Regions from separate parts of the Homo sapiens genome. Here all the other regions are linked to region 4. Evidence: fine-mapped expression QTL. A gene starts in region 4. Each other region holds a variant in brackets. All regions are shown on one strand. Distances are from middle to middle.

Region 1 (8,109 bases), 100 kb before region 4:
ATTGTTGATGCTTTTCCTGACTACCAAGTTCAGGGCTGGTTTACATTTCATATTGTGAAATTTTCAAAACCAATGGTCTATTTATAAGCCAGAATTGTATTAATGAAAATGAATGAGAAAAATGTCCTTAAAGGTAAAAATCATTATGTAGCTAAATGAAATTGTGGCTGTGTGTGAGTACATTATAATATAATTTCCATCTGATGTGTATTTACTTGAACTCATCATTCCTTATGAATTCCTTAACCATTAAGAAAAAGACTAGATTAATCAAAGGAATTACAAATTATTCCATTTTTACAAAATACCCTGTTTCTATACTGCAAATGGCCATGTTGGGTATATGTCTATATACGCCTTACTTAGACATTGTATTGTATATAACCGTGTGTAGAACTATAGACAATAGTCACCAAATAGTTATTTAAATATTAATTTTCTTTATTAATACAACACATTTAATAAGTATCTACCTATGCCAGGCACTGTGCTAAGTTCTATTACTAAATAAAATTTGGTCCCTGTCCGAAGATGCTTGTGACCATTGAAAATTAGGAAAATGAATGCCCTCAGTCAGACAAAAAGTCAACAGCTGGATTTATTATTAGTACTTACCAAGTAGGCACAAATCATTGCATTTACAGACTTCACCAAATCTTTGTAGGGTATAAACAAAATGCTAATTTAATAAAAGAGGAAAATGAGGAGAGAAAGGTTAAGTAATTAATCCAACCTCATACAATACCCAAACTATAGAGCTGAAATTTGACATGAGCAATATTTGATTATAAAGCCTATGCAAGTCCACATAACCTTCTTTTAATTAGTTTAGGTCATTTTTCATTATTACTATTTTTAACGTAAATATTAAGTATAATTTTTACTGACTCAAGGTTTCTGGTTAACCAAACAGATAGATGCACTTTTCATCTAAAAAGGGAACTTATGTTACACTTTGTATTTTTTTTATTTTAAATTATGGGTGTGGTCCTATGGGAGAGGGAGAATATAAGGCAAATTTTCAAAAGTTTTGAGGCCCTGGTTGTCATTATTCATTCACTGATTCAGTAAATACTTGTTGACACTTCCATGTACCAGTTGCTATGCTAGGGATTCAGAGATTAACAAGACAGTCCTTGTCAGAGCCCTCATGAAATATTTTACTATATCAATATTAAACAAATGTATGCCAGTTAGATGTTGTGACTCCATATAAATGACTTACTTGTTTTGTAGTATCTTCTCAGCTCTTGTATTTTCTATCTAAGACCACTCTGTTGCAATTTAAGTGATAAGCATATTCTGGCAGCAGGATTCCCTCAATAATACACTTTTGGGCTTCACAATCTTCATGATCTTTAACTTGGGCTATTACAAGTTCCAACAAAACCAGTCCTTAGGACTATATCATCCTTTGCCAGTAGATGGTCCTATGTATTTAGCATGTTGTCTTGAAACCTAAGAAACCGCTTCTCAAGTTCAGATCATGTAAAACTAGCCAGTTTTATACATTCAAAGGTAAGTCTCGTATGTTACCACAAAACTCAGATAAACATAGCAGGAAAGTTCTAAAAAGCAAAAGAAAAATAAACAATTATAGTTGTGTTATAAACAAGGATTCCAAAGTTAATAATATTTAAAGTTACATAATTTGTCTCAGTACTTGTGACCCAATATAGAAACAAAAAGATTAAGTATTCACTTATGAGTTTTTATGTGATTTAATATTATACCTAAAAACAGATTATGTAGCAATGAAGCAATGAAATACTGATAAACATGAAATAATATTAACTTGGCTATATCATTTAATTTTAGTCAGTTTAATCCATATAAATAAGGGGTAACCTTATATATGAAGTATATTTAATTTGTATATATTAAATATATTAAATTTAATTAAAATGCATTGGACCTACAAATGTATAAAACTAAAGAATTTTCTGATGACTCACCTGGGAAGGTGCAAAAGAGGTCTTATAATCAGGTGACAGCTTATGGAAAGCTAATATAATGAGACCTTTTTCAACATGCAGATGCTGATATTTCCAGAGTGACAAAGACCGATGAAGCAATTGTCAAAGTCCCCTTTTTTAGGCTAGCTCATTGTTTATATGAGACAAGTTTCCAAGACTCACATAGGTAGGGTATAGATAAATGAGGTTAATGTAGATCCAAGCAGCTACAGATGCTCCTTGACCTAAGAGGGGGTTACATTTTGATAAACACATAGTAAGTTGAAAATATCATGAATCAAAAGTACATTTAATATACCTAACCTGCCAAACATCATAGTTTAGTCTCGCCTACCTTAAATGTGCTCGGTTGCATTACATTAGCCTACAGGTGGGCAAAATCATCTAGCATCATAGTGCACTGTAGAGTATTAGTTGTTTACCCTTCTGATCAGTGGCTGACTGGGAACTGAGGCTCACTGATGCTGCCTAGCAGTGCAAGAGAGTATCATACTGCATATCTCTAGCCCAGGAAAAGATCAAAGTTCAAAATTGGAAACTGGAAGTACAGTTTCTACTGGATGCATATCACTTCCACACAATGGCAAAGTTGAAAAATCGTAGGTCAAACTCTCATAAGGCAGGGACCTTCTATACATATATTTTACAACCTGACACACATACACACATGCACATGCACATACACATATACACACACAACCCCTTAGAAGTTTATTACAAAGCAGCATAAATATTTTGAGGACTTAAGTTACTGAATTCTTTTTTATTTTGGTAAAAAACACATAACATAAAATTTACCATCTTTAACATTTTTATGTGTACAGTTCAGTAATGTTAACTATATTCATATTGTTATGAAGCAGATGTTCAGAACTTTATCTGGCAGATCTGAAACTCTATGTCCATTAAACTCTCCTTTTTCTCCAACCCCTAGTTCCAACTAACCACCAGTCTACTTTGTTTCTATGAATTTGACAACTTTGGATACATTATATAAGTGGAATTATACAGTATTTGCTTTTTTGTGACTGGCTTATTTCATTTAGCATAATGTCCACAAGATTCCCCCATGTTGTAGCATGTGATAGAACTTCCTTCCTTTTTAAAGCTGAATAACAGTCCTGTACATGTATATACCATATTTTGCCTAATCATTTACTTGGGTTGCTTCAGCCTCTTGGCTATTGTGAATAGTGCTGTGTGAATATGGTTGTACGATTATCTCTTTGAGACCATGTTTTCAGTTCTTTTGGATATATACCTAGAAGTGAATTGCTGAGTTTTTATTTGTGTGTGTGTAGAATCTCCATCCTGTTTTTCCTAGCTGCTGCACTATTTTACAGTCCTACTAACAGTGCACAAGGGCTCCAATTTCTCCACATCCTTACCAGCACTTGTTATTTTCTACTTTCTGTATAGGAGTCAATCTAATGAGTATGATGTGATATCTCACTGTAGTTTTGATTTGCATTTCTCTCATGATTAGTGATATTGAGCATCCTTTCATATGTTGTTGGTCATTTGTATATCATCTTTAGACAAATGTCTTTTCAAGCCTTAGCCTGAAAAAAAAATTTTTTAATTAAAACTTGTTTCATGGTATTTAAGGCCCACCATGATCTGGCCTCAATTTGTTTTCTCTGCTTCCAAATAGCTGTTTCCCCTTATCCTTCCTCCATTCCTCTGTTCTTCATTCCCTTGACTGGACACAGTGGGTGTTCCCTTTTGCTTTTCCTCTTACTCATTTTATTTTCTCAGCCAACAATGCCCTTACCCTACCATCTTCATCTATCAAAACCCTATCTAGCTTCAAGGACATTTAAAATTTTTTTTCAGTTGTATATTTTCCTTTATTATGACTATAGAGGACTTTATTTCAAATCTTACCATTACATTTATCATATGCTACCTTTTATCATGTATCTTCCCTAACCACTCATTCATTCATTCAACCAATCACTATTTATTTGTCACATAATCTCAGACTATTCAATCTAAAATACTCCCCCAACCAGTCCTTCTTCAACACATTACCCAGTTTTATTGTTCATGTAACTTATTATTATCTCCATTTATCTTATTTATTTATATGACAATTGAATCTAACTTCATATAACCTCCACCCTTCTTAGACTATAAGCTCTGTGGGGTAGGAATCTTGCTTGTCTTATTTAGTTAGTATTCATGGCACCTAGAACAATACATGGCAGATAGGGAACACTTGAAAAGTATTTATTCAATAGGTGCCTAAATGCATGAGTGAACAAATGAATACAAATGGAGCAAAAAATAAAAAATGTGAATGAAAAAATAAAGGTTAATTTCTGAGAATGAATAAAATTACTGTAGGAGAAGAATATTAAAAAGTGCACTCACTCCTTCATATTCTTGTGTATTAAACCCACATTATTAGGTAAAATTATAATGTGCAGTTTTTTCTTTTCTGCTGAACAGAAAAATTAGGCATCTTGGGAATTTCATAATATTTATTTCATCTACTTTCTTTCCTCCTCTCCAGAATAAATTAAGAATTAACTCACTGGTTTAAATCTTCCCAACAGGATGGTGATAATAAAAGTTTTACAAACATTTCTTCTAATTCCTTGATTCAATAGAAAGTAGATATTACAATAACTATATAAATGGACTATCTAGCTCCATGTTTTCCTCTCTCTTTGAGTCCCCAAACTGTATATCCTTCCTCTTTCTGCTTCTTTGGGTAGCTCTCAACATCCCTCAAGTCAGGTGGACAGGTCCAGGAATTCATAGATCCTATACTCTTACTATTATCAAGCCAATGACCATAAAGAGGTCTTTCCTCAAATTAGAGTCTTTTTACTTTCTTTTTGTGTTTGTATAAAAAAAACTCAATGCCAACAGAACAACCTTACCCTAATGGCCACAAGACCTGATCACAACAATGAAAAGGTCAATTCACA[G/T]CAGAAAGCAAATTTTCACCAATAATAGAGCCTGTTAGAAATACAGCACCTCTTCTCACCACCAGCCTTAGGTATCGGCTTGAGTGATGATTAGGTACACTAGCTTTGGAGAAAGACTGCTTGGTGGGGTCCTGCCTCTGTTATCTCCCTGCTGAGAATGTTATATAACCTCTTCATGCCTCAGGTTTCTCATTTTTAAAATGGAGATAATAATGGCACTTACTTCATTGCATGTTGTGAGGCGGGAGAATCGCTTGAACCCGGGAGGCGGAATTTACAGTGAGCCAAGATTATGCCATTGCACTCCAGCATGGGTGATAAGAGCGAGACTTCATCTCAAAAAAAAATCTTACCTGAGATTCCTCATGGAACAGAGTCCTATCTAAGCCAAATTTTTGAAGGCTTTATTTTTAGGCTTTGTTAGTCTAAGTGAAAAATAATTACTCTTGCTGCACTTCATGCAAATAATCAGGCCAAGTACAGGAAGACTAAAGTTTATTTTGTAAACAAATTAGTTCTACCATGATTTGTTTTTAATAAAAATGGGGACTAGAGAGACAAAAATTATGCTTCAAAAGAAAAACTATAGTACACTGTTGTTAGCTGTTTTTGAGGTGTTTTTCTGCAGTTTAAGCTAAATTCTAAATTCTTTGTGGATTAGAAGTCCCCAAACTAATGCTTTCAAATCTTTGCTTTTAAAATTGGAAATTGTACTACTCATCCTAGGACTCGTTATTTACCTTACAGTAGGCTGTTCACTTAAACACTGTAGTAAAACTGTAGATAAGAGTACTAATGTTTCTGCCATGCAAGCCTTGGAAGCTCAACCAGGCCTGCATGAGTACACTCAGACAGTTGCAAAGCAGTTCCACTCTTCTCACCCTGGGGTTCACTCCCATTCCCACTATGTCTCCTGTCAGCAGGAAGAAGCCAGAGCGATCCACAGCCTTTTCCTATCTTCATAATCTACACCTTAAGATTAAGGTGTTATAAAACCTAAAGGGAGGGATTGAAACCACCTTTGCAAAATTATGACGGAGACAGTGAAAGAGATCTAACTTAGCTGACTCCATCTTGCTTCTAACCTCCAAGCTGTCCTTGTTCATTCCTGGGTGTAGGCTGAAATAACTTTGGGATAAACTTAGTTTATAGTTTACACTTTACACAAAGACAGTAACAGCCCTTTCCCAAAGCAGACCTCCTTCTTGCCTGGGGACTAGATTGTCTTTGTAGGATGAACATTAGCCACAAGATTAGAAATTATGGTTTACGAGTCATGTAGCTGGAGGCTACAAGATTCCTACCCTCCCTAAACTGCTCCTGAGATCAGTGCTTGAGATATTTTGCAGACCCTGCACTTGATGGATCAGCTGGCATCACCCAGATCAATAAACTGGCTCATCTGATCTCGTGGCCCCCACCCAGGAACTGACTCAGCACAAGAAGATAGCTTCGACTCTATGATTTTATCCCTGACCAATCAGCACTTCTGGCTCACTGGCTTCCCCCCACCCACCAAGTTATCCTTAAAAACTCTGCTCCCTGAATGCTCTGGGAGACTGATGTGAGTAATAATAAAACTCCAGTCTCCCACACAGCTGGCTCTGCATGAATTACTCTTTCTCTATTGCAATTTCCCTGTCTTGATGAATTGGCTCTGTCTAGGCAGTGGGCAAGGTGAGCTCCTTGGGTGGTTATATCATTAGAGAAGGACGTATAATTTTGTGGGAGAGGTAGTCCTTTTGAGTTAAAAGACCCCAAGTGTGAGCTGATAGAGGATACTGAACTAGTGCTCAGTGTCTGATGCATAGTAGTTACTTAATATATGTTTGTGGAATAAGTAACAGAATGACTGAATGAATCCATAAATAAAGTATTAACAGAAAAAAGGGAAAAGGAAATAGGCACATGCCAATAATAAAATTGCTTTCTTTGCAATTGGGCTAAGGTTCCAAACGTCAGATGGCATGTTGCTGAAATTGTATGGACTTTCTCTCTTTGCAACAGATCCTACTGGTTACTAAAGCCTGGATTGTATGTAAAATAATGTGTCCAAAAAGCTGAAACAAAAGCTGAAACACTAAGTTCTTCTCAATTCCGTTTCTCCAGTCCCAAATTTGCTGGTGTTCCTACACAATTTTAATGTGTCCACATCATGCTTATATCTTTCATACAATCCCCACAAAGGAAAAGGACATAAGAGAGCAAGGGACTTGGAAAAAAAGAATAATAAATAGAAAGATAAGGAAATGAAAGAGAGATGGTAATATATGACTGCAGCGGCAACAGAAATTATACTTAGAGAGGAGAGGAGTAATTCTGGAGACCTATGACCTATGACCAAGGGTCCAAATGTCACGCTGGCTTCCCTCATCTCTCTCTCATCTTCTCAGATGAATTTCCATGTTCTCAGGAAACTCTGGGCAGGTGAATATTGAAAATTCTCTGTCCTTATAATGGGATGAAAAATTGGATTTTATCACAATCTTTATTGATATTTTGACTTAATATGATAAGTCAAAAACTATACTGATCATACCCATCTGGCAAAATTCCAATCATGTGTGATCCTAATCACTGGTTCTCTTCATATGTGGAAAAGAGCAGCTGAGTGCTGCTGGAGCAAGTCACTCTTCGAGGTAAAATATTCACTATAAATTCATGATGATCAACTTCAAAAGATTTGTCAGCACCATTCAGCAATCCTCCTGTATTTCTTTAGTTCTCTCACTGTTCCACTCTGTACAACTGGTCTCAAACTTTTCCTGCTCTCTGAACAAGCCCAGTCCTCCCCTCCCTTCTTTTCTCACAGCTGATCATTGGCTGACCCTTTACATTTCTGCCACCAAACGTAAAAACTGACCCTTATCCTCATTCATTCTATACTTTGTCCCTTTTCATAAACATAGCATTGCCTATTTGCCTACCTAATTCAGTCACCCCTAGAACTCATCCATGACATCTTCTTGCTCTTCATACTCCACAGCCAATTCACCATCAAATCCTATTCATTGTGACCCCTAAATAACAGCCCTTGAATAAGTCCTCTTCTCTCCATCTTCACCATTATTAGCAAGGTTCAAGAATAACTGTTTTCTCTGACCTGGACTACTGCCATTGCTTTCTAACTAATCTCTCTACATCCATTCATTAACTCTACCAATTTATTCCTTTTTTTTTTTTTTTGAGATGGA
Region 2 (8,110 bases), 560 kb before region 4:
TTTATGCCTTAGTAAAATCTTTTTGGCTTCTCTGTTCTACTTTTATTAACAGAATTTCAGATAAGAGAATGTTGTTATAAGGAATCATTTTAGCAGGTGTGTTACTATATTTAGTCTAAAATTTTAAAAAATCTGGATAGGTTTTTTAAAAAAAATCCTTAAATGTTTTGAGATGCTGATTAGTTCAGAATTATACATATGTTGGTTTAAACTAGTTGAATCTTTTGATGCTGTTTAATTACCTCAGACTCTACCTCAGAAGTAGAAAGTGCTTATATTTTAAATCTGGGTTTTCCCGTAAAACCCATTGTATATTATAAAAGTAATATAGATAAGGCGTTTTTCCATGTATGGAATCTTTAAGGCTGGTAAACGATATCTTCCTTCTTTGAATAGTGTTTCTTCCTTTGAATAATTATGCTACCACTCATATTTAATGGCTTCTATGTGTGAGGTATTGTGCCATATTTTTTTCTTTTAATTCTTACAGCAAGCCAAATAACTAAAATGTGAACTATTATCATTTTATAGTTGTAAAAATTGATAGAGAAGTTAACAATCTTGCCCAAGTTTACCCTGTTAGGAAATAGAAGAACTAAGAATTCAAAACAAAGCTTATCTTATTAGAACAGTATACACTCTTCAATGTACTATATAAGGATACCCTTTTCCATCATCATTTAAAAACTATGTGAGTCTAGTTCTGGGATTATGCTTAATTTTAAAATAGTAATGACCTTTTTTTAAAAAAAAGTTTTAAAGTTGTTTTCAGCAGCAATTGTAAATAAAATAGTTTGGTGGACAGTCAATTAATTTTGTGTGGCTTTTTTTTGGATAGCAAAAAAGAACTTATGAAGTTTTAGAATATTTATACTATTCTTGAACTATTTACTGATTCTTCTTTCATATACTTACTAGACCGTGTGCTTAAAATTTTGAATCTTTAAAAGTAATGCAAGTTTTTTATAGAAAATATGACAAATAACCTAATGTATAAGGAAACAAAAGTTTCTGCAATTCCATCACTGTTTCTAATAGAAAATTATGAATGAGTTCCCTTCTCGCAGCATCTATGTGCCCACTTCACATTGGGCACTTCTCTCAGCCACAGAGCAAAGGTGGGAGGGGCTCATTAGTTTCAAGAAATTCTTATACTGGGTCAACTTTAGTAAGAAAGAAAGAAACGAAAGTTGAACACACATGACTGTTAGCTAATTAAAAGATGTGGCTCATCTTCTTTATAAATAAATAAACTGATTAGTGACCCATTGCTGGAAACTGGAAGAATCAGAAGTAAGTGTGCATCTGCTAGCATTACAAATACTCAAATGGGAATTTCTTTATATTATTAATGATTAAATTTATGAAGGAATTAAAAATATGATCTTGGCAGCAGAGAGTATGAATTTGTTATGTGTATTTGAGATCTGTCTAGCCGACACTGTAGACATGGGTTTATTCTTGTAAACCACTTTTTCTCCAGAGAGACTTGAGTGAACAGGTGGGATTGCTTCCATTGATAGGAGGATAAGGGAAGTGAGTACAATGTTTATATCTAACTGTACTTGCTTCCTGCACTTCTGATATGGAGACCTTCACCTAAATCTTTACTACTGTTATTGTCTTAATACCTCTTTTTCTTTGCTTAGACTATTAGAAAGAAATTTTACCTGACTCTTAGAATTTATTCATTATTTTGTTACTATATTTTCATTTTAACATAATTTTCTTACTAATAAGCTTACATTTAATGAACATAAACTATGTGCCAGTTATGGTGGCAAATGCTTTACATGCTTTGTTTTGTTTAATCCTTACCACATCTCTTTGATAGAGATTCATATTATTGACTGTTTTCTGGAGGAGAAGTGGAGGCTAAGGAAAGAAAAATAAAATTAACCAAAATGTTACAGCTGATAGAAGACAGAGGCAAATCTCTTGCCCAGATATACCTGAGATACAAAGTCAAGTATTCTTGCCACTCTGTTACAGCTTATACATTTCAAAATTTCTTTTTGGAAAAAAATAATATTGTATTCTTATGTTTTCCCAGTGAGCTCCTGTAAACATTTAGGTTTCATTTTAATCCTGCGTTATTAATTTCAATTTTGTATTTTGCCTAAGTATTAGCTGACTGTATGGGGTTATTAATTTATACTCATATGGTGGGAAGTTGAGTATGTTTAGACTTAAAACATTCATGTACTGTTTTTCTTTTTCAAATTTTAACCCTGTTTGATTGAAATTATTAAATCATCTAGAAATGTGATTCTCAACCTTGGCTGATCATTGGAAGAAGCAAAAACTGTGAAATCAGATTCTCTGAGGTAGGGCCTTACGTTGGAAGCTTCTTAATTATACACATATGCAGCCAAGGTTGAGAACCACGGACTTAAAATAGCCTTTGGTATCCACGGGGGCTTGATTCCAGGATACCCCTCAGATACCAAAATCTGTGATTGCTCAAGTCTCTGATATAAAATCGTATAGCCTTTTGGTGGCACACTGCCACTTAGTGGATTTTAGAGCAGTGGTTCCTAATTAGCATGCATCTGAATCAGTGGCAAGAGACCCTATTAAAACATAGATTACTGGGCTTCATGCACAGAACCCTGAATCAGTAGGTCTAACGGGAGGCCTAAGAATTTGCATTTCTAGCAAGTTTCAGGTGATGCCAGTGCTGCTTTTTTGGACTGCCCTTTGAGAACCACTTCAGATTTAGGTATCACTCTTTGAGAACCACTGATTTAGGATCTTACTTTCTGAGTTGGTCTCTTAAACTTCCTTTTAGTTTAAGTGATCACCATACTCCACTACCCACCAGATACACACCCACATACCCTTTGTAAGCTATCATTAAGCATTACTAGGAGCCTCCAGATGCCTGCACTAATACTAAAGGGTAGTTGTACCTCTGGATGAGGGATTTGTTGTGGCTCACCTGGGGACACTTCAAATGAACTTCATTCTTCCCTTCCTCTATTCTGTGAAGTATAAAGTACACAGATTAGTTTAGAGGTCTCTTCATACTGTAGCTACAGGCCCCTTTTTCTTTAACTCTTCAATAATTTTGAAAAATCTCAAAAGTTTAATGTTTTCACCCCTAATTTCTCTTGCTAATTTGTTTCTAGCAAAAATGTGTCTTTGTCAGCAGTGCTGGTAAGTGATTACAGATAAGGTAGGGTTAGGCAGTACCGATGACCCTCCAACAACATGGGTTTGAACTTACAGGTGGATTTTCTTCCCCCGCCACCTCTGACACAGCAAGACCAACCCCTCCTCTGCCTCCTCTTCCTCATCCTACTCAGTGTGAAGACAATAAGGATAAAGACCTGTACGATAATCCCTCTTCTACTCATTGAATAGAAAATATATTTTTCTCTCTTATGATTTTCTTAAAAACTTTTTCTTTTTTCTAGCTTACTTTATTGTAAGAATACAGTATATAGTACATATGACTTAAAAATATATATTAATCAACTGTTTGTGTTATTGATAAGGCTCCCAGTTAACAGTGGGCTATTCGTAGTTAAGCTTTTGGGGAGCCAAAAGTGTTTAAGGTGCCATCTTGAAAACCAGAGGCTAGTAACATGATCTTCGACATTTTAGCCTCTAGAACTGTGAAAAAAAAAAAAAAATCTGTCCTTTACTCATTGCCCAGTCTGTGCTACAGTCATTTTTTGGTATCCATGGGGGCTTGATTCCAGGATACGCCTCAGATACCAAAATCTGTGATTGCTCAAGTCTCTGATATAAAATGGTACAGTGGCCGGGTATGGTGGCTCATGCCTGTAACACCAGCACTTTGGGAGGCTGAGGTGGGTGGATCACCTGAGGTCAGGAGTTTGAGACCAGCCTGTCTAACATGGTGAAATCCTGTCTCTACTAAAAATACAAAATTATCCAGGCATGGTGGCACATTCCTGTAATCGCAGCTACTTGGGAGGTTGAGGCAGGGGAATTGCTTGAAGCCAGGACATGGAGGTTGCAGTGAGCTGAGATTGCACCATTGCACTCCAGCCTGGGCAACAAGAGTGAAACTCCATCTCAAATAAAATAAAATAAAATTGTATAGTATTTGCATATAACCTATGTACATCTTCCCATATACTTGAAATAATCTCTGGATTACTTATAAAACCGAATACAGTGTAAATGTTATGCAAATAGTTGTTATACTATCTTTTTTTAAATTTGTATTTTGTATTTTTATTTTTTGTGTTTTTTGGGAGGAATTTTTTGTTTTGTTTTGTTTTTGAGATGGAGTTTTGCTCTCATTGCCCAGGCTGGAGTGCAATGGCGC[A/C]CTCTCGGCTCACTGCAACCTCTGCCTCCTGGGTTCTAGCGATTCTCCTTCCTCAGCCTCCCAAGTAGCTGAGATTACCGGCGCCCGTCACCACGCCCAGCTAATTTAAACTTTCTGTGCTTCGGTGTCCTCATCTACAGAAAGGGAATAATACTCCCATTTTGTAGAATTTTTGTGTGTGGTATTATATGAGAGAATGAGAAAAAATGTCTGGTACTTTGTAATAAATTAAAAATTCAATACATTTCTAAATGTATTGAAAAAAAAAACCCACGATGATACCTCTTGAGTGTTTCTTCTCCTTGGAGATGACTTGCTTTTTTATAGAACAGGGGTTAAGGCATATTAGGGGCCTGGCATGTCATTAGTCCCTTCAGTAATACACGTTGATAGGGAACCAACAGATTTAGCTACCCCACGATATAGCATATCCAAGGCTTAGATTTATAGATTCAAGAACATTTAAAAATATTTGTCTATGGGGCACCTCTGACGGTTGAGTTTTGTTATTGCCATCAGCGCCCACTCACTTTTTGGTTAAGTGTTGTTTTTGTCTCTCCTCTTCCTTGGTCCTTGGAGATAATCGTTATAATTTTAATAAGCTAGCACTGCATTAAAAATGATATGCATTGAAATTTAAGATTCTAGTTGTTAAATAGGGTAATTCATATACTATTCTTTTTGAAGTGGAAGTTGAGGCTAGCATAATTCATAAACTCCTTCTCAATAGGTATTGCTTTTTAAAAAATTAACTTTATTCCTGATTATATAACTGTTTTAATTTACATAGTTGTGTTGGGTGAACTGTATAAATGTCCATATTTACAGGAGTGGTTCCCAAACATCTCTCCCTGTCCCAGTCCATTATGATGGCATTATTATTCACCAGGGGAGAGGGTGGTTGTGGAGCACAGAGCAGGGCACTGAGCCAGTGACCAATACGCCTAGCGTGAGGGCTCCTTTCCAGTGTACAAATCATGGATGTAAATTATTAACCCCTAGTTTGCTTTTTTTGGCTAACAAAATATCATTATGTCACTGGCTGTCAAGGAGAGTGAAAAGCAGCTTTATGAAGTTCCTTCTCCCATTTTTTTTTTTTAGGGGAATATACACTATACTCAGCCATACCCTAGAAATCAGAGCCCCATACATGCTAGGCATTTTTGTAACCTTAGCCTATGCCATCATCCATATTAATGCCTTTTAAAACTTCCTCTGTGTCTTTACCTTCCTCAGTGGACTTTGAACCCTTCACGGGGATGGATTGTGTCATATTATTCTCAGAGTCTCAAGGACCTAAGAGAGTTCCTAGCTCATGACATGTGCTGAGTAGTTTTGCTGCATGAAAGAATTTGAATTGAAGATCATTTGTTCCTTTTTAAAAGACTTTTAGAGGAAATTCCATGACCTCATTCATTCATTTCATGTTTAATAGTGCATATTGCTTACAGATTTTATTTATTTTGTTGCTTTCTGAGCCCATCTTTCAGTCTGTTTTCAGTTGTGATAGGCAATTCATTCATTATTCTTTGTATTTGGGATCAAGGCATTAGAGAGATGTGTAATACAGACTTTGGAGTCAAACAGAGCTGGGTGTGAATTGGGACTTTGCCACTTTTTAAATGTTGTTGTTGGATACATTACTTAACTTCACTATTGTCTCTTCATTTGTAAAATGAGTATGAAAAAGTACCCACTATAGGATAATTATGAGGACTGAGTGAGGCAGTGCACACAAAGTTCTTAGGCTGGCGCATAATAAGTGCCCAATACAACAATTTTTTATTGTAGTTGACGTTTAGATAGTTGGTTTTCAATAAGCATGTTTTTCTTAAACCTGATTATTTAAAGTCATCCAATGATTCATTTGTTTTCCTTAATTTCAGTTGTTAGTTGGAGAAATGTTTACAGCCTAGTGAAAATGTGTGCGGTAGACCAGTAAGATCACCTACTTAATAAAATCATCTATTTGCTAGGTTAAATTTTGCTCTGTATTATTAATTATGGAAATTGATTTTCTTGCTTTGAAACTTTATTATGTTTACCCAGTTATTTATCCTAGTGAAATAAATTATCAACGAAAATGCTGCTTCTAAAATTTTCATTGGGATGATTGATAACTTAGAAATGTCATATTTATTGAAGAAATAGAATTATTTTTATTCAGAACAAATTCACTTTGTGATTATGCACATTTAATTTTATTTATAGACTTTTACATCCCAGTGGTGCTAAGTGAAGTGAATTTTGCAAGATCATAGTTTCAGTGCCTTGAATGTCATTAAGTCCCAAGAATAAAGAGTGCTGACTTAGATGTCAGAAGACTTGCATTCTCATTCTGATTCCCTCAGTTCTTAGTCTGTGACCTTGGGCAAGTCATTTAACTACCAAGTTTCATTTTCTTTATCTTTTCCTGCCTTGTCTACCTCACAGAGTCATTGGGAGAGTGAAATGAAAAAATATTTAAGAATGGTGAAGACTGTGGAAATTAAAGATATTATTTTTGGTGTAAGGCAATTTTTAGAAAAGATAACAGCATGTAGGCTAAGACAGTGAAAATACATCCATTCACCTGACTTTTTATTCCAAATCAATATCAGAAATATTCAAGAAGTGTCTTTAATGTCTTTTTTATAGCTCACTTTGAAAGAAAATTTACAAATTACAGGGTGGCTTGTTATTTGTGTTCCCCTCTCCAGTATGTGCTGCCAGTTTGGATTTTGGCAATGCAGTTTTTTGTTGTCGTTAAGGCCCACTTTGAGTGAATGCTAACATCAGCAGATAGAGTTGAGGAAACTTTCTGAAAACAGCTAAACATACCAGTGCTTATCCATTGAGTGTGTGAGTCAGGAGACTCCTGTTTGCTTGGTCATGTTGATGTTTACATATGCTAAAATAATTTCTCCTGAGTGTCCATGCCCTCTCTTATCATTTCTCCTCTTGGTGAGGACCTGGAGCTTTTGGACATTGGGGAATGCATTGCAGCCTGTGTGTGGCACTCATTGGCCGGCCAGCTAGCCTTTTTTAGTGTTTACTGTTCCACTGGGATTAAGTAGTGAGTGGGGCTTCATGTAATAAATTGTGTCCCCTACAAATTCATATGTTGAAGTCCTAACCCCCAGTTCCTTATAATGTGACTACATTTGGAGATAGAGCCTTTAGAGATGATTAAGGTTAAATGAGGTCATATGAGTAAACGCTAATCACTATAACTGCGATTCTTATAAGAAGAGGAAGAGGCACCAGGGATTTGCACACACAGAGGAAAGAACATGTCGGGATACTGCGGGAAGGTGGCTATCTGCAAGCCAAGGAGAGAGAGGCCTCCAGAAAAACCAAACCTGCCAATGCCATGATCTTGGACTTTGAGCCTCTAGAACTGTGAGAAAGCAAATTTCTGTTTAAGCCACCCAGTCTGTGGTACTTTGCTATAGCAGCCCTGGCAAACCATTACATGGAGATCCCAGGTGCTTGGCACTACCAGGTGTATGTGTCGGTCATTAGGACTGTGAAAAGCACCTTAAAAGACCTGATGACCTTAATGTAAATTGAGTTTCAGTTTAAATTTAGTAGAGGGTAGAGGTTCACAGATTATATAGCCTGTTACAGCCTGTAAGTTTTTGGGTTTTGTTGCTGTTGTTGTTGTTTTTTAATGTAGAGCTAATGGTTTATTAGTCCATTTTCATGCTGCTGATAAAGACATACCTGAGATTGGGCAATCTACAAAAGAAAGATGTTTAATAGACTTACAGTACCACATAGCTGGGGAAGCCTCCCAATCATGGCAGAAGGCAAGGAGGGTAAGTC
Region 3 (8,110 bases), 130 kb before region 4:
ATATGCCTTGCTGGATGAATGTACCAGTGCTGTCAGCATTGATGTCGAAGGAAAGATATTTCAGGCTGCAAAAGGGGCTGGAATTTCCTTACTGTCTATAACACACAGACCTTCTCTTTGGTAAGTGTTTCTAGTGCTAATTTGTGGTAGATGGTTTTTCCTTAAATTTCTCAAAAAATAACTTTGCTAAATTTTTCACAGTAGAGGGTAGGGTATTTCACTTATTTTCTACCCATATTTCTCTTAAGTTGCACATTAGTAGCTTAGATACTCCCTACCTAATATCATTAGTGTATTATTTGAATTATCATCAGTTTCCAGTAATTCTTAAAAGACATGGAAAAATCCAGTGATTTATTTTAATGGAAAATATTTATCATTACCCAGTAACATGTACTGGGAAAAATATATTTATATATTTGTACATCATTCTTTTAGTCCTTTCTCTAAAACCCAGGAAAGTAAAATCTGGGGAAAAAAATATATGTACACACAACTTGATACTCCCCCAAAGGATTAAGTGGAGAAAACACAGGTGGTGGTGGGGAAGGGGGGAGGGCTTATTTTTAGTTGGTTTAAAGAAAAATGAGCTAAATTTTTTTAGAACTAATATCTCATAAAACCATATAGAATTTCCCCTTCAAATAAAGATGCTAATTTTACAATTCCCCTACTTTTCCATTGATTCATCATCATCATAATAGTTGAGCACTTATTCTGTTCCAGGTACATCTTATTTAAGCCTCACAACAACCCTGTGGAATTTAGGAAATCTAATCTTCCTATTTTACAGATGAAGAAACTGAGAACTAGAAAAGTGAGATACTTCCATGATCACATACTCTGTACTACAGCACACGGCTCTCATTATAAGGAACTCAAAGTGTATCTCATGCATTAACCATAAATACTACATTCTCTACTTTTGCATTTCTATTTAATCAATGAAAATTTTTTCTTTTGACTTCTTAGTAACTATAACTGTCTCTATATATGCTTTGGCCTCCTGTTTTCTAAAGGACTGCACAGGATTCCTCCTCTCTCTCTTTCTGGCTGCAGCATTCTGTGGCAGGTGGCTGATCAGATTTCATGCCAAAGTTGTCATGATGTACATGGCTTCAAATCTAGCCTAGTAGCAAGCATTATTGGAATTAATCCTTGAAGCCCTTCTAGACCTTTGACCTTATAAAGAATGTTTACATTAAAATTGTTAGCAAACAGTATTCATCCAATCAGGCTTTTATTGTTCAAAATTCTTTGACTCTGAGTTTCATTTATATTGAAAAGATAATCTATTTTCACACTCAGTTTAAACCTTCAGATTTTTCAGAATTTTTAAAAAATATACTTTCTGGATCTAGTCCAGCATGAGTTAGGATCCATGCCAATGAATATGCTTCCTCTGACTTTTATCCTGAAGAAGACCAACAGGACCTAGATCTTTAAGACAATAATGACATTTGCCTGTAAATCCTCTGAATCAAGGACAACACAGAGCTAGGCCAGTACTCTTGAGCCCTTTTTGGTATGAACCTTGATTTCCAGACTTTCTCCCAAATTAATCACATGTTGGGACATATTAGGCTTGGAGTTTTTCTGACCTGTGTTAATGGATTTATTATGCTATCCTGCCATTCAATTCCTTACTCAAGTAGCCTTAGGAGGCATTGAAAGCATATATAGCCATTGTTTCCTCAATTGAGGGAACAAATATTCTTTTTAAGTAAATAACAAAATCTGTAAGGCTATGCCTTTTGACAAGAAACACATTTTTAATTGCAGCTACCCAAGTACATTTCTCCACAAAACAAAACAACATGTTAGTTCTGATTTTTTTATTTAGCTTTGCCATTTCAGGTTGTCATTTCTGATTATTCTTTCTCTCAGGGAAAATAAAAATTTCATTTTCCCTGAATAGATTTCAGAAGTGGGGAAAGATGTGTCATATTTTTCCCATAACAACAAATGAGTAATTGTTGATTGTAAAGATTAAAATCAATACTAGAGTCTGAAGAAGTAAAAATTTATAGAAGCTTATTAAAATTTCTGATTCCTGGATAGAATTATAGCTGTATAACCATCACTTTCCTAAGCTTTTTCCTATTTGTGAAGGAAGTTTAAAGATTATCTCAAATGAGTTTCAGTTAAAATAGATAAACCCTGAAATATTATCTCAGCTTGTAATATAGAACATGCGTTTGAATCTCAGGGTATGAAACGCCTACACAGTTGGTTCCTCCCATGTAGAAATCAAATAATGTTGTAAGACCAGAGTGATGAGCCAAACCATCATTATACATCGAAGGTGGTGTTTGCCCAATATATGAATGACCATGTATGAGTGAGATCATGTGGTATTTGTCTTTCTGTGTCTAGCTTATTTCACTTACTATAATGTCCTCCAGGTTCTTCCATGTTTTTGTAAGTGGCGGGATTTTATTCTTTTTTACAGTGGAGTAGTATTCCATCATGTATATATATAACATTCTTTATCTTTTCATCCATTGATGGACACTAGGGTTGATTCCATATGTTGGCTGTAAAAATAGTGCTGAAATAAACATGGGAGTGCAGTTATCTCTTTGACATACTGAGATCATTTCCTTTGCATATATTCCCAGTGGGGGATTGCTGGATCATTTTGTAGTTCTATTTTTAACATTTTGAGGAACCTCCTTACTGTTTTCCATGATGGCTATACTAATTTATATTCCCACCAAAGGTGTGTAAGAGTTCCCTTTTTTCCACATCCTCACCAACACTTTCTGTCATTTTCTTAATAGCCATTCTGACAAGAGTGAGGTGATTTGAATTTACCTAATGATTAGTGTTGTTGAGCATTTTTTGATATGCCTGTTTGTCATTTGTGTGTATCTTCTTTTGAGAAATGTTCATTCAGATCTTCTGTCCATTTTGTAATCAGGTTATTCATTTTCTTGCTATTTAGTTGTTTGAATTTCTTATATATGTTGGCTGTTATCAGATATATAGTTTCCAAATATTTTCTCCAATTTGATAGGTATCTCTTCATTCTGTTGATTGTTTTCTTTGTTGCACAGAAGCTTTTGAGTTTGATGTAATCCCATTTGTCTATTTTTACTTTTGTTGCCTATGCTCTTGAGGTCATATCCAAAACTCGTTGCCCAAATTTCATTGTCATTTCAAATTTATATCCAAATTTCATTGTCATGAAATTTTTGCCCTATGTATTCTAATAATTTCAGGTCTTGCATTGAAGTCTTTAATCCATTTTGAGTTTGTTTTTGCATATGGTGAGCAATAAGGGTCAAATTTCATTCTTCTACCTGTGGATATACAGTTTCCCACAATTTATTGAGGATACTGCCCTTTCCCAATAGTGTGTTCTTGGCAACTTTGTTGAAAATCAGTTGACTATAAATACAAGGATTTATTTCTGGGTTCTCTATTCTATTCCTTAAGTCTGTGTGTCTGTTTTTGTGTCAGTACAATGCTGTTTGGGTTGCTACAGTTTGGTAGTATATTTTGACACCAGGTAGTGTGATGGCTCCAGCTTTGTACTTTATGCTCAAGAATTTTTTCACTATTTTGGGTGTTTTGCAGTTGCACACAAATTTTAGAATTTTTTTTCTATTTCTCTGAAGACTATCAT[T/C]GGCATTTCCATAGGGATTGAATTGAATATGTAGATCACTTCGGGTAGTATTGACATTTTAACAATATTAATTCTTCCAATTCATAAACATGAGATATCATTTTATTTGTGTATGTGTGTCTTCTTCGATTCCTTACATTAATGTTTTATAGTTTCATTGTAGAGACCTTACACCTCCTTGCTTATATTTATGCCTAAGTGTTTAACTTTTTCTAGCTATTGAAAATGGGATTGTTTCCTTGATTTTTTTCACATAATTTGCTGTCAGTGTAGAGAAATGCTACTGATTTTTACATACTGATTTTGTATCTTGCAACTTTCCTGAATTCATTTATAAATCTAATGTTTTCTGATGGAGTCTTTAGTACTTTCTATATATAAATGTGGTACATAACATTAACAAAATGAAGGATAAGAACATGTTATCTGGGGGAGTGGAGCCAAGAGGGCTGAATAGGAACAGCTCCAGTCTACAACTCCCAGCATCAGCGATGCAGAAGACAGGTGTTTTTTGCATTTCCAACTGAGGTACCGGGTTCATCTCACTGGGGAGTGTCAGAAAGCGGGTGCAGGACAGTGGGTGCAGACCACCGAGCGTGAGGCGAAGCAGGGCGAGGCATCGCCTCACCCAGGATGCACAAGGGGTCAGGGAATTCCCTTTCCTACTCAAAGTAAGGGTTGACAGACGGCACCTGGAAAATCGGGTCACTCCCACCCTAATACTGCGCTTTTCCAACAGTCCTAGCAAACGGCACACCAGGATATTATATCCCGTGCCTGGCTCGGAGGGTACTATGCCCACGGAGCCTTGCTCATTGCTAGCACAGCAGTCTGAGATCAAACTGCAAGACGGCAGCAAGGCTGGGGAGGGGTGCCCGCCATTGCCAAGGCTTCAGTAGGTAAACAAAGCGGCAGGGAAGCTCCAACTGGGTGGAGCCCACCACAGCTCAAGGAGGCCTGCTTGGATCTGTAGACTCAACCTCTGGGGGTAGGGCATAGACAAACAAAAGGCAGCAGAATACTCTGCAGACTTAAATGTCCCTGTCTGACAACTTTGAAGAGAGCAGTGGTTCTCACAGCACACAGCTGGAGATCTGAGAACGGACAGACTGCCTCCTCAAGTGGGTCCCTGACACCCAAGTAGCCTAACTGGGATGCACCCCCAAGTAGGGGCAGACTTACACCACACACAGCTGGGTACTCCTCTGAGAAAAAAATTCCAGAGGAATGAACAGGCAGCAACATTGGCTGTTCAGGAATATTTGCTGTTCTGCAGCCTCCACAGCTGATACCCAGACAAACAGGGTCTGGAGTGGACCTCTAGCAAACTCCAACAGACCTGCAGTTGAGGGTCCTGACTGTTAGCAGGAAAACTAACAAACAGAAAGGACATGAACACCAAAACCCCATCTGTAAATCACCATCATCAAAGACCAAAGATAGATAAAACCAGAAAGATGGGGAAAAAACAGAGCAGAAAAACTGGAAACTCTAAAAATCAGAGCACCTCTCCTCCTCCAAAGGAACGCAGCTCCTCACCAGCAACGGAACAAAGCTGGATGGAAAATGACTTTGACGAGTTCAGAGAAGAAGGCTTCAGATGATCAAACTACTCCGAGCTAAAGGAGGGAGTTCGAACCCATGGAAAACAAGTTAAAAACCTTGAAAAAAAATTAGACGAATGGCTAGCTAGAAAAACCAATGCAGAGAAGTCCTTAAAGGACCTGAGGGAGCTGAAAACCATGGCACGAGAATGAACATGGTGAATGCACAAGCCTCAGTAGCCGATTCAATCAACTGGAAGAAAGGGTATCAGTGATGGAAGATCAAATGAATGAAATGAAGTGAGAAGAGAAGTTTAGAGAAAAAGGAATAAACAGAAATGAACAAAGCCTCCAAGAAATATGGGACTATGTGAAAAGACCAAATCTACATCTGATTGGTGTACCTGAAAGTGACGGGGAGAATGGAATCAAGTTGGAAAACACTCTGCAGGATATTATCCAGGAGAACTTCCCCAATCTAGCAAGGCAGGCCAACATTCAAATTCACGAAATACAGAGAATGCCACAAAGATACTCCTCAAGAAGAGCAACTCCAAGACACATAATTGTCAGATTCACCAAAGTTGAAATGAAGGAAAAAATGTTAAGGGCAGCCAGAGAGAAAGGTGGGGTTACCCACAAAGGGAAGCCCATCAGACTAACAGCTGATCTATCAGCAGAAACTCTACAAGCCAGAAGAGAGTGGGGGCCAATATTCAACATTCTTAAAGAAAAGAATTTTCAACCCAGAATTTCATATCCAGCCAAACTAAGCTTCATAAGTGAAGGAGAAATCAAATCCTTTACAGACAAGCAAATGCTGAGAGATTTTGTCACCACTAGGCCTGCCCTAAAAGAGCTCCTGAAGGAAGCACTAAACATGGAAAGGAACAACCGGTACCAGCCACTGCAAAAGGATGCCTAATTGTAAAGACCATGCAGACTAGGAAGAAATTGCATCAACTAATGAGCAAAATAATCAGCTAACATCATAATGACAGGATCAAATTCACACAATATTAACCTTAAATGTAAATGGGCTAAATGCTCCAATTAAAAGACACAAATTGGCAAATTGGATAAAGAGTCAAGACTCATCAGTGTGCTGTATTCCCCAGACCCATCTCATGTTCAGAGACACACATAGGCTCAAAATAAAGGGATAGAGGAAGATCTACCAAGCAAATGGAAAACAAAAAATGCAGGGGTTGCAATCCTAGTCTCTAATAAAAGAGACTTTAAACCAACAAAGATCAAAAGAGACAAAGAAGGCCATTACATAATGGTAAAGGGATCAATTCAACAAGAAGAGCTAACTATCCTAAATATATATGCACCCAATACAGAAGCACCCAGATGCATAAAGCAAGTCCTCAGAGACCTAGAAAGAGACTTAGACTCCTGCACAATAATATTGGGAGAGTTTAACACCCCACTGTCGACATTAGACAGATCAATGAGACAGAAAGTTAACAAGCATATCCAGGAATTGAACTCAGCTCTGCACCAAGCAGACCTAATAGACATCTACAGAACTCTCCACACCAAATCAACACAATATACATTCTTCTAAGCACCACACCACACCTATTCCAAAATTGACCACATAGTTGGAAGTAAAGCACTCCTCATCAAACGTAAAAGAACAGAAATTATAACAAACTGTCTCTCAGACCACAGTGCAATCAAATTAGAACTCAGGATTAAGAAACTCACTCAAAACCGCTAAACTACATGGAAACTGAACAACCTGCTCCTGAGTGACTACTGGGTACATAACAAAATGAAGGCAGAAATAAAGATATTCTTTGAAACCAATGAGAACAAAGACACAACGTACCAGAATTTCTGGGACACATTCAAAGCAGTGTGTAGAGGGAAATTTATAGCACTAAATGCCCACAACAGAAAGCAGGAAAGATCTAAAATTGACACCCTAACATCACAATTAAAAGAAATAGAGGAGCAAGAGCAAACACATTCAAAAGCTAGCAGAAGGCAAGAAATAACTAAGATCAGAGCAGAACTGAAGGAAATAGAGACACAAAAAACCTTTCAAAAAAATCAATGAATCCAGGAGCTGGTTTTTTGAAAAGATCAACAAAATCGATAGACCGCTAGCAAGACTAATAGAGAAGAAAAGAGAGAAGAATCAAATAGATGCAATAAAAAATGATAAAGGGAATATCACCACTGATCCCACAGAAATACAAACTACCATCAGCAAACACTATAAACACTTCTATGCAAACAAACTAGAAAATCTAGAAGAAATGGATAAATTCCTCGACACAAACAACCTCCCAAGACTAAACCAGGAAGAATTTCAATCTCTGAATAAACCAATAACAGGCTCTGAAATTGAGGCAATAATTAATAGCTTACCAACCAAAAAAACTCCAGGACCAGACGGATTCACAGCCGAATTCTACCAGAGGTACAAGGAGGAACTGGTACCATTCTTTCTGAAACTATTCCAATAAATAGAAAAAGAGCGAATCCTCCCTAACTCATTTTATGAGGCCAGCATCATCCTGATACCAAAGCCGGGCAGAGACACAACAAAAAAAGAGAATTTTAGACCAATATCCCAGATGAACATTGATGCAAAAATCCTCAATAAAACACTGGCAAACTAAATCCAGCAGCACATCAAAAAGCTTATCCACCATGATCAAGTGGGCTTCATCCCTGGGATGCAAGGCTGGTTCAACATATGCAAATCAATAAATGTAATCCAGCATGTAAACAGAACCAATGACAAAAACCATAAGATTATCTCAATAGATGCAGAAAAGGCCTCTAACAAAATTCAACAACCCTTCATGCTAAAAACTCTCAATAAATTAGGTATTGATGGGATGCATATCAAAATAATTAGAGCTATCTATGACAAACCCACAGCCAATATCATACTGAATGAGCAAAAACTGGG
Region 4 (8,104 bases):
GGCACCTCATCACAGGGTAGCAAGAGAGAGAATGAGTGCCAAGTGAAGGGATAAGCCCCTTACAGAACCATCAGATCTCATGAGAACTCACTCACTATCAGAACAGCATGGTGGAAACTGCCCCTGCAATTCAACTATCTCCACCTGGTCCTGTCCTTTGATGCATGGGGATTATCACAAACAAGGTGAGATTTGGGTGGGCACACAGAGCCAAACCATGTCAGTAAAAGGAAAGGTAAAGACGGGACAGAGTAGTTTCCTTTCTTTTCAGTTCTTCCTTATTAATCTGTAAGTCAAAGGTAGGAAATGTTATTAGCATATGTGTGTATGAAATAAAAACAGTTGAGTTAGTTTTGTGCAGTGTTTCTACTGTTAAGAATAAAATGCATGTATGAATTATGAAATAAGTTGTATAATTTTTATAATCCCATGTAAGAGTTAAATGCTCTTCTGTTGATACTTAAAACCAGCATTGTACACTATAAAGATGAATGGAGAAAGTCATGGAAATATCTAAAACTTTAACTTTTCTTTCTGGAGAATGACATTAAATAGCAAATAAAAAACACCGTGACACAAGAGAGCTTAAAGGAAGGGGAAAAACTTTCTATTTTCGTACCTTTCATATCATTTTTATCTTCCTTTTCTTACAAGATCCCTCACATCTTCATTTTGTACCGGGTTGTGCAAATCAGGTAGCTGGTCTTTGTGGGGGTGCTATTTTAGACTGGGTGATCAAGAGAGGCCTCTTTGAGAAGACAGCATTTAAACTGATAACCTAGAAATTAAAAAAAAAAAAGCCAACGATGGGAAGGTCTGGGGAAAGAACATTCCAGGGAGAGGGTATAGCTAGTGCAAAGACCCTCAGGCAGGAAAGAACTTTATGAGTTCCAGAAATAGAAAGAAAACCAGTCTCACCAAAAAGTAGTTGTTAAGGTATAGAGTGGCAAAAGGTGAGGTCAGAGTTGGGGCAGGGACAGTGTGTGAAGGTCTTAAAGTGTAGAATAATTTATTCTATTTGTGTTAGTAGCCATTGGAAGGTTTCAGGCAGAGAAATGACATAAATGACTTATGTTTAAAAGGACATTATTCTGGCCAGGCACAGTGTCTCACACCTGTAATCACAGCACTTTGAGAGGCCAAGGCAGGCGGATCACCTGAGGTCAGGAGTTCGAGACCAGCCTGACCAACATGGCGAAACCTCGTCTCTACTAAAAATACAAAAATTAGCCAGGCATGGTGGTGGGTGCCTGTAATCTCAGCTACTCAGGAGGCTGACGCAGGAGAATCATTTGGACGCAGGAGAATCATTTGAACCCAGGAGGCAGAGGTTGCAGTGAGCCAAGATTGCCCCACTGTATTTCAGCCTGGGCAACAGTGAGACTCTGTCTCAAGAAAAAAAAAAAAACCAACAAAAACATTATTCCTGCAATATGAAGGCAAGAGTGGACTCAGGGAGACCATCCTGTGCAGTTTATATCTGAAGAATTCCTTACCCGTCCAGGTAAAATTCATCGTATTTCTCTCGTAATTTCTGTTATTCCATTTAGTATTTTCAAACATATCTTCCTGTGCTAGACAGTAAACTCCTTGTAAGCACTGACATTGTCTTATTCTTCTCTAAATCACTGTTGTCCCTCACTTTGTTTGCATATAATCACTTAAAATATTTATTGAGTCAATGATTGGAATAAGACTTAAACCACTCTTGCAGTAAAAGCTCTTCCCTTGGAACTTTCTTGAAATTAAGAAATTAAGATTATTTAGAGGAGTCATGGCCAGGCGCGGTCACTCACGCCTGTAATCCCAGCACTTTGGGAGGCCGAGGCGGGTGGATCACGAGGTCAAGAGATCGAGACCATCCTGGCCAACATGGTGAAACCCCGTCTCTACTAAAAATACAAAAAGTTAAGCCAGGCGTGGTAGCAGGTGCCTGTAGTCCCAGCTACTCGGGAGGCTGAGGCAGGAGAATGGCGTGAACCCAGGAGGCAGAGCTTTCAGTGAGCCGAGTTGGTGCCACTGCACTCCAGCCTGGGCGAAAGAGTGAGACTCCAGAGCGAGACTCCAGAGCGAGACTCCATCTCAGAAAAAAAAAAAAAAAAGAGGAGTCATAAGGAAAGGTGTTATAGCAGCTGTAAATGAATTGGAACTAAATACAAAATAGTATGTTAATTTTACAACTTTAGAAATTTGGGGAAAAATTACTGACTAGGTCATTAATGAGAATTTGAATTTCTACACTGCCTCTTCCTGAAACCATGTGCAATATGAACCCAAAGCCACAGCTGTTATTGGTGCTAATATTTTGTCCAGAAGTTCCAGCCTGGTGTCTTGGGACTAAAGTTGGCCTGAGACATATTTTGTCTGGTTTGCAGCATATGTAAATATTGTGCTGAATTAGTCGTTGGTGTTTAAAACTAAGGAGTTTTTTCATAAAGATCTGTTTTTCTCTTTTTCTTGAGAAGCAACATACATACAAGAAATAAAAATCTTGGCAGCATTGGATTTGCATTTCATCAAGGCAATATTCAGCCAGAGCTGAGGATGGCCACCACCTTTGGAAGGGGCCTGTGTCTCTATTTTATGATAGTCCTCACCTTTATCATAGTATTCATCTTGCTCTGCTCTTTTGAGCTACCTGCCTGGCTCCTGTAGGCATTTGTGTTTGTGACTCCCCTTACTGAGACATATATGTATACTATTGTTATTTAAAATGAGAACTTTTTTTGGCCAGGTGAGGTAGCTCATGCCTGTAATCCCAGCACTTTGGGAGGCTGAGGTGGGCGGATCACTTGAGGTCAGGAGTTTGAGACCAGCCTGGTAAACATGGTGAAATCCCATCTCTACTAAAAATACAAAAATTACCTGGATGTGTTGGCACATGCCTGAAATCCCAGCTACTCCGGAGGCTGAGGCACGAGAATCCCTTGAACCCCGGAGGAGGATGTCGATGTCGCAGTGAGCTGAGATCACACCATTGCATTCCAGCCTGGATGACAGAGCGAGACACTGTCTCAAAAAATAAAATAGGCTGGGTGTGGTGGCTCATGCCTGTAATCCCAGCACTTTGGGAGGCCGAGGCGGGTGGATCACAAGGTCAGGAGTTCAAGACCAGCCTGGCCAATACGGTGAAACTCTGTCTCTACTAAAAATACAAAAATTAGCTGGGCATGGTGGCACACGCCTGTAGTCCCAGCTACTCAGGAGGCTGAGGCAGAAGAATCGCTTGAACCCGGGAGGCAGAGGTTACAGTGAGCCGAGATCACGCCACTGCACTCCAGCCTGGTGACAGAGCAAGACTTTGTCTCAAAATAAAATAAAATAAAAAAGAACTTTTTTTAAAAAGAGGGTCTTAATTATACAAATTTCTCTTTAGTTTTCTTGTTAAATGTGCTGGGCCATTCTTGCTTTCCTTGCAGCTTTCATCAACAAAAGAAGCAAGGTGGCCAGCCCAGATCCACCCAGATATGGGCTTGCCAGGGCAGGGTGAAATGCAGCTCTGATTTGTTGATGGATAAATTTTGAGGCTAGGAAAGGCCCTCCAAAGAGTAGCCAGAGGAGAGCTTTCCCACCAATTTGATCTATAGAAGGATACTCAGCATCTCTGCCCTCTTTACCTCCCAGTTACATGTCTGTTAAGATTTAGGGGTAGTGAGATTAAGGGACAGAATAAATTTAAAACTATCTATAATTATATACCCCATCGGCCTTCCCATGGGTTTAAATCATCAAACACTTCTTGTTTTTCCCATAGTGTTGCAGCCTTCTCTGAGCCACACTGCTGTATCACTGCTGAACAAGATGATTAGGTATGTGATTGTAGATTGCAGGCATTTGAGGTAGTGCCTTTATTTGGATAGTGCCATTTAATTTGTGATACTATTTCGTATGAAGCCACATGTTTGTTTATAGAGATGTATGGAGCAGTCCACAAAAGATACTCTGTGGCAAAGCTAATAAAGGCTGTTTCCACAGAGCTATCTGAAGGCATGTGGAAGCACAATAGTGACAAACAGAAACCACAATGGGTCAATGTTGAGAGAATCCTGGGATTGGGAGGTGCTTTTTAAAGGCCAGAAGGGAAAGAAAATCAGTTTGGAAGGATTTACTACACAGCAGGTCTTGGTGGATATATTCAGTTCTGGGAACACTTGGCAGTACCAGGGTGCAGTTCATTTACCAGTGTACAAATGATTGAACAGAAAAGCATTCAGGAGTCTCGAATAAATCATTTCCATATCCCACCCGAGCTGGTAAACGGGCGATGAACTGTAGAACAGCCCAGCTGTCCAGAGACAGTGGACAAACCTGGGAGTCCGTTTAGCATGAATGACTGACTCCGGGGAGGGAGGAGGGAGGGCGTTCAGCTGGGGGCTAGGGAAGGGGGTCAAAGTCCAAGCTGCAGAGAGGACAATAAGGCTATGCGTGGGACACAAAGCCGAACCGCAGCAGCAGCTGCCTGGCTCCCGGCGCGCCGCTGAATCAAGCTTCGATTTGAGAAGGGACCTGGCAGCAGCGCGTGCACTAGCTGCTTCCTTCTCCCAGAAGAGCCTGGAAGGGCGCACAGGCTGGTCGCCCTCGGGCGAGGGCAGCCGGCGGCAGGCATCCCTCCCCCTCGCCTCCCTGCCCAGCAGCGCCAGGCAGTGTCCCGACGAGGGCAGGGCGGGGCGCAGGCTGGGGGAGGGCGAGGTGGGGCTGAGCCGCGCGGCGGCGGCTGACGCAGTGCGGGGCGAGGAGCCCGGAGCGCCCTGGCGGGCGTGGAGTCCCCAGCCTGGCCGCTGGGAGGCCGCGTCCCCACCGGAGGGGGCAGGGCGCACTCACCCGGCCGCCCTGAGGCCGCTGGCGGCCTGTTGGCTTCTCCACAGGCGCGCTCGCCGTTCAAGCGCGCTTTGTCCCCGCCCCAGATCCTGGGGGGTGAGCGGTGGAGAAGGGGCGGGCGCCCGCGAGCCGTGAATCACCTCCTCCTCTTGCTGCCTCAGCGCCGCCGCCACCTTTCCATTCAGTCGCCCAACATGGCTGGAGCGCGGCGGAGGTGAGCCGGCCGCCCGCCCGCAGACGCCCCAGCCTACTGCGCCCGAGTCCCGCGGCCCCAGTGGCGCCTCAGCTCTGCGGTGCCGAGGCCCAACGGCTCGATCGCTGCCCGCCGCCAGCATGTTGGGCGCCCCGGACGAGAGCTCCGTGCGGGTGGCTGTCAGGTGAGGACAGTCTGCCGGCGGCGGGCGGCGGGCGGCGGGTTGAGGGCGCGGCAAGGACCTGGCTGTGGCGCGGAGCACCGGCTACCGGGGTGGAGCGACCTGAGGGGCGTCCCGGCCGGGTTCTGCGGCTGAGGAAACTGAGGCAGTGAGTCCCCGCTGGCCTGGCACGCGCGGCCGGGTGCTGGCAGGGCGACTGCGCCGCCCTCACGCCGTCTGTGTTTGCAGGTGGCTGGCGGCTGCGCGGCGCCGGGTCCCTGGGGGGCGTCTTGACTTCTCTGGGGGAAAAGCCCTCGTCACTCCCCTCCGTCCCCTCGCGGGATCAGTCACCTCAGGTCTGGCCGCCTTGGGCTATCGCCTGTCCGGGAGGAGCTGCCTGTGCGCGGGGCTGTGGTGTTCTTTTTTATTAGTTCTAGAATGTCTGTCATACGTGTCCATGCAGCTCCGGCCTTCCCAGGCAGGAGACAAAGCATCTGACTATCAGCGCCGGCGACCGCAGGGCCCGCCGCGCGCCCACTCGGGTTCTGATGTCTGTGCAAATGAGACATCTTTTTCAGCATCACGGGGATCTAGACATGCCCCCGCGTGTGGGTAGAGGAGACAGATCTAGCCTCTTGGGTGTTGGAATGGGAGTGGAATTTAAGGTAAAATCCACTGGGGAGAGGTCTACAGAAGGAGGAAAACTCTTTAGCCAGAGGAAGGGTGAAATGGGTGACTGTGTGAAACATACTGACATTAGGCAGGGTGGATACAATGTAATCGTAACGTTACCCAGGCCAGGGTGTGAGTCTGGAAATACTAGGTACATCCTAGTATTGAAATTATATTTCGGCCAATGACAGGCACGAGTATTCGATGTAATTTCGGCTGTTTTGATACTTATCAAGAAGGAAAGCTCTGATAGTTGCTCATGGAAAATTGCAACATCATCACACTGTGTGAAAAATTAATGAAGCATTCATCCTAGAGTAAGTGCGTGGCTTTCACAGCTCTGAGAGTCTACTGTTAATTCACTTCTCCTTATTTATGCTTTAAGGATTATAAAAATAATCTACACTCCAAGGAATTAGGAACTATTAACAATCTCCCAGTCTTGTAGTCTTTCCAGAAAATTATTCTAAAAATTCTCCCCTCTAAACATTTCTATAGTTACTATTTTAGTGACACATCTTGGGTCAGGCATAGTAATGGCTGTTTCGTATACTTTGTATCTTTAATTAACTTAAATAATAAAATGAGTTTTTAAGTGTTTTTTTTTTTTTTTTTTTTACCACCCAGGGAGGTGACAGTTTTATGACTGGTTAGAATCACCTGTTATAAGGCTTTTGAAGTTTTAATTAGGCCTTCTTCGTTATTCTAGGGCTACTTATCCAATTGTTAGATTAGTCTGTTTCTCCTATTCACTGCTACTACCTCTCTTTTGGCCCTTTAATACCAGTTAATGACTGCACCAGGGTGGAGAAAGGGGAAGGAAAAAGACAGAAAACCCAATAAGAGGCAATTTTGTTAGGAGATCTGATCAAGGAAAGTGAAGAAGGTGCATAAAATATTACTGAAAACAGACAATTTGTCTGTTTTTAGACGTTTGAGATTTTTATATGTGAATTCTCTAGACTATCACAAGGCAGTTTGTTGACCATTCTGTTAAATCCGATGCTTCTTTGCCTGTAGAGCCATGGATGACCCTAAAGTGATGCTGACTGATAAATAACTTGTATTTTGTTTTGGTGTGTATGTTAGGACTTTTTAGGTGAATGAATGTGGGTTTGATTTTTGGGGAAAGGCTTTATAAAAACTTCAACATAACTTAGTAAGCCATATTGTAAAGATTCAATTTGTTGAATTCAGGATTCCTTCCTTCCTTCCTTCTTTCCTTTCTCTTTCTCTCTTCTTTCCTTTCTTCTTTCTTTTTTTTGAGATAGGGTTTTGCTGTGTCACCCAGGCTAGAGTGTCGTGGTGCCATCATAGCTCACTGCAGCCTCAACCTCATGGGCTCAAGCAATCCTCTAATCTCAGCCTGCTGAGTAGCTGAGATCACAGGCATGTGCCACACTGCTTGGCTAATTTTTATACATTTTTGTAGATATGGGGCCTCCCTATGTTTCCCAGAGTGGTCTTGTACTCCTGGGCTCAAGCCGTCCCTCCCAAATTGCTGGGATTACAGGCATTAGCCACTGCGCCTGGATAAATCGGGGATTTCTTTCATTAAATACATTGTTCTCTGAACAGAGCTACCTTGTAAACTTACTTTATATAGGATAAAAATAGCTTATACTCATATAGCACTTTAGTATTTATAAAGTGTTTGGACTTATATTGTTCATTTATAACCATTATTTATTGAAGATATATACCCGTCTCTGTTATCCTGATTTCTGGGCTAAAAGTAGTGATAATTGTTTGACTTATACTGTGTGCCGGGATTAGTGCTGTGTTAAGATGTTTTATCTCATGTAAAGTCTTATTTATTCCTCATAACAATCTGTGACTTAGGTCCTGTTATTATGGCCATTTACAGATGAGGCACAGAAAGATTAAGTAAACCATCCAAAGTTAAATTGGTAACAAATGAGAGAGCCAGGGTTCCAACCCAGATAGCTTGACTCAGTAGCCCAAGTTCTTAACCATTAACCCTGCGGAAGTGAGAGGCAAGAACATGGCTTTGCAAAGTTTCACTTAGCTTTGGGTCAGTTGCCTGTTCTTGATTTTGTATTAGTTCATTTACAAATGAGTGGCTTTCACAGGTTATTCATATTTTGATATTGCTAGAAAAGATAGAACTAAGACAGGACCTGAACTTACTAAAATATTTCCTCAAATTATTTAATCTTTCCAGCTTCCTGTTACCCTACCCTTCAGTTTGAGAAGGGTTCCTCAGCAGAATAAATAAATCAATACAAAATCGTGTGTCT

What was found.
Region 1: its variant is fine-mapped to the expression of KIF21A in skeletal muscle (GTEx, PIP above 0.99).
Region 2: its variant is fine-mapped to the expression of KIF21A in whole blood (INTERVAL, PIP 0.91).
Region 3: its variant is fine-mapped to the expression of KIF21A in subcutaneous fat (GTEx, PIP 0.93).

Annotation. Positions count from the first base shown.
Region 1 is chr12:39,542,454-39,550,562 of GRCh38, reverse strand. It overlaps ABCD2 (ATP binding cassette subfamily D member 2), which reads left to right. Exons shown (of 10, transcript NM_005164.4): 10 at 1-530. LOC124902918 (a long non-coding RNA gene) reads right to left here and starts at 4,297. Exons shown (of 2, transcript XR_007063277.1): 1 at 1,956-4,297; 2 at 581-1,568. The variant G/T (reference allele first, on the strand shown) is at 4,916.
Region 2 is chr12:40,000,141-40,008,250 of GRCh38, reverse strand. All of the region lies in intron 3 of SLC2A13 (solute carrier family 2 member 13), which reads left to right. Among named protein-coding and RNA genes, the nearest start is that of SLC2A13, 100 kb to the left of the region's middle. The variant A/C (reference allele first, on the strand shown) is at 4,304.
Region 3 is chr12:39,565,726-39,573,835 of GRCh38, reverse strand. ABCD2 (ATP binding cassette subfamily D member 2) reads left to right here. Exons shown (of 10, transcript NM_005164.4): 9 at 1-120. Among named protein-coding and RNA genes, the nearest start is that of ABCD2, 50 kb to the left of the region's middle. The variant T/C (reference allele first, on the strand shown) is at 3,632.
Region 4 is chr12:39,440,018-39,448,121 of GRCh38, reverse strand. KIF21A (kinesin family member 21A) reads left to right here and starts at 5,002. Exons shown (of 38, transcript NM_001173464.2): 1 at 5,002-5,195. The coding sequence starts at 5,152. LOC124902919 (a long non-coding RNA gene) reads right to left here and starts at 966. Exons shown (of 2, transcript XR_007063278.1): 1 at 620-966; 2 at 1-286. RefSeq lists enhancers at 4,332-4,391, 4,673-5,173, 5,992-6,061 and a silencer at 4,472-5,371.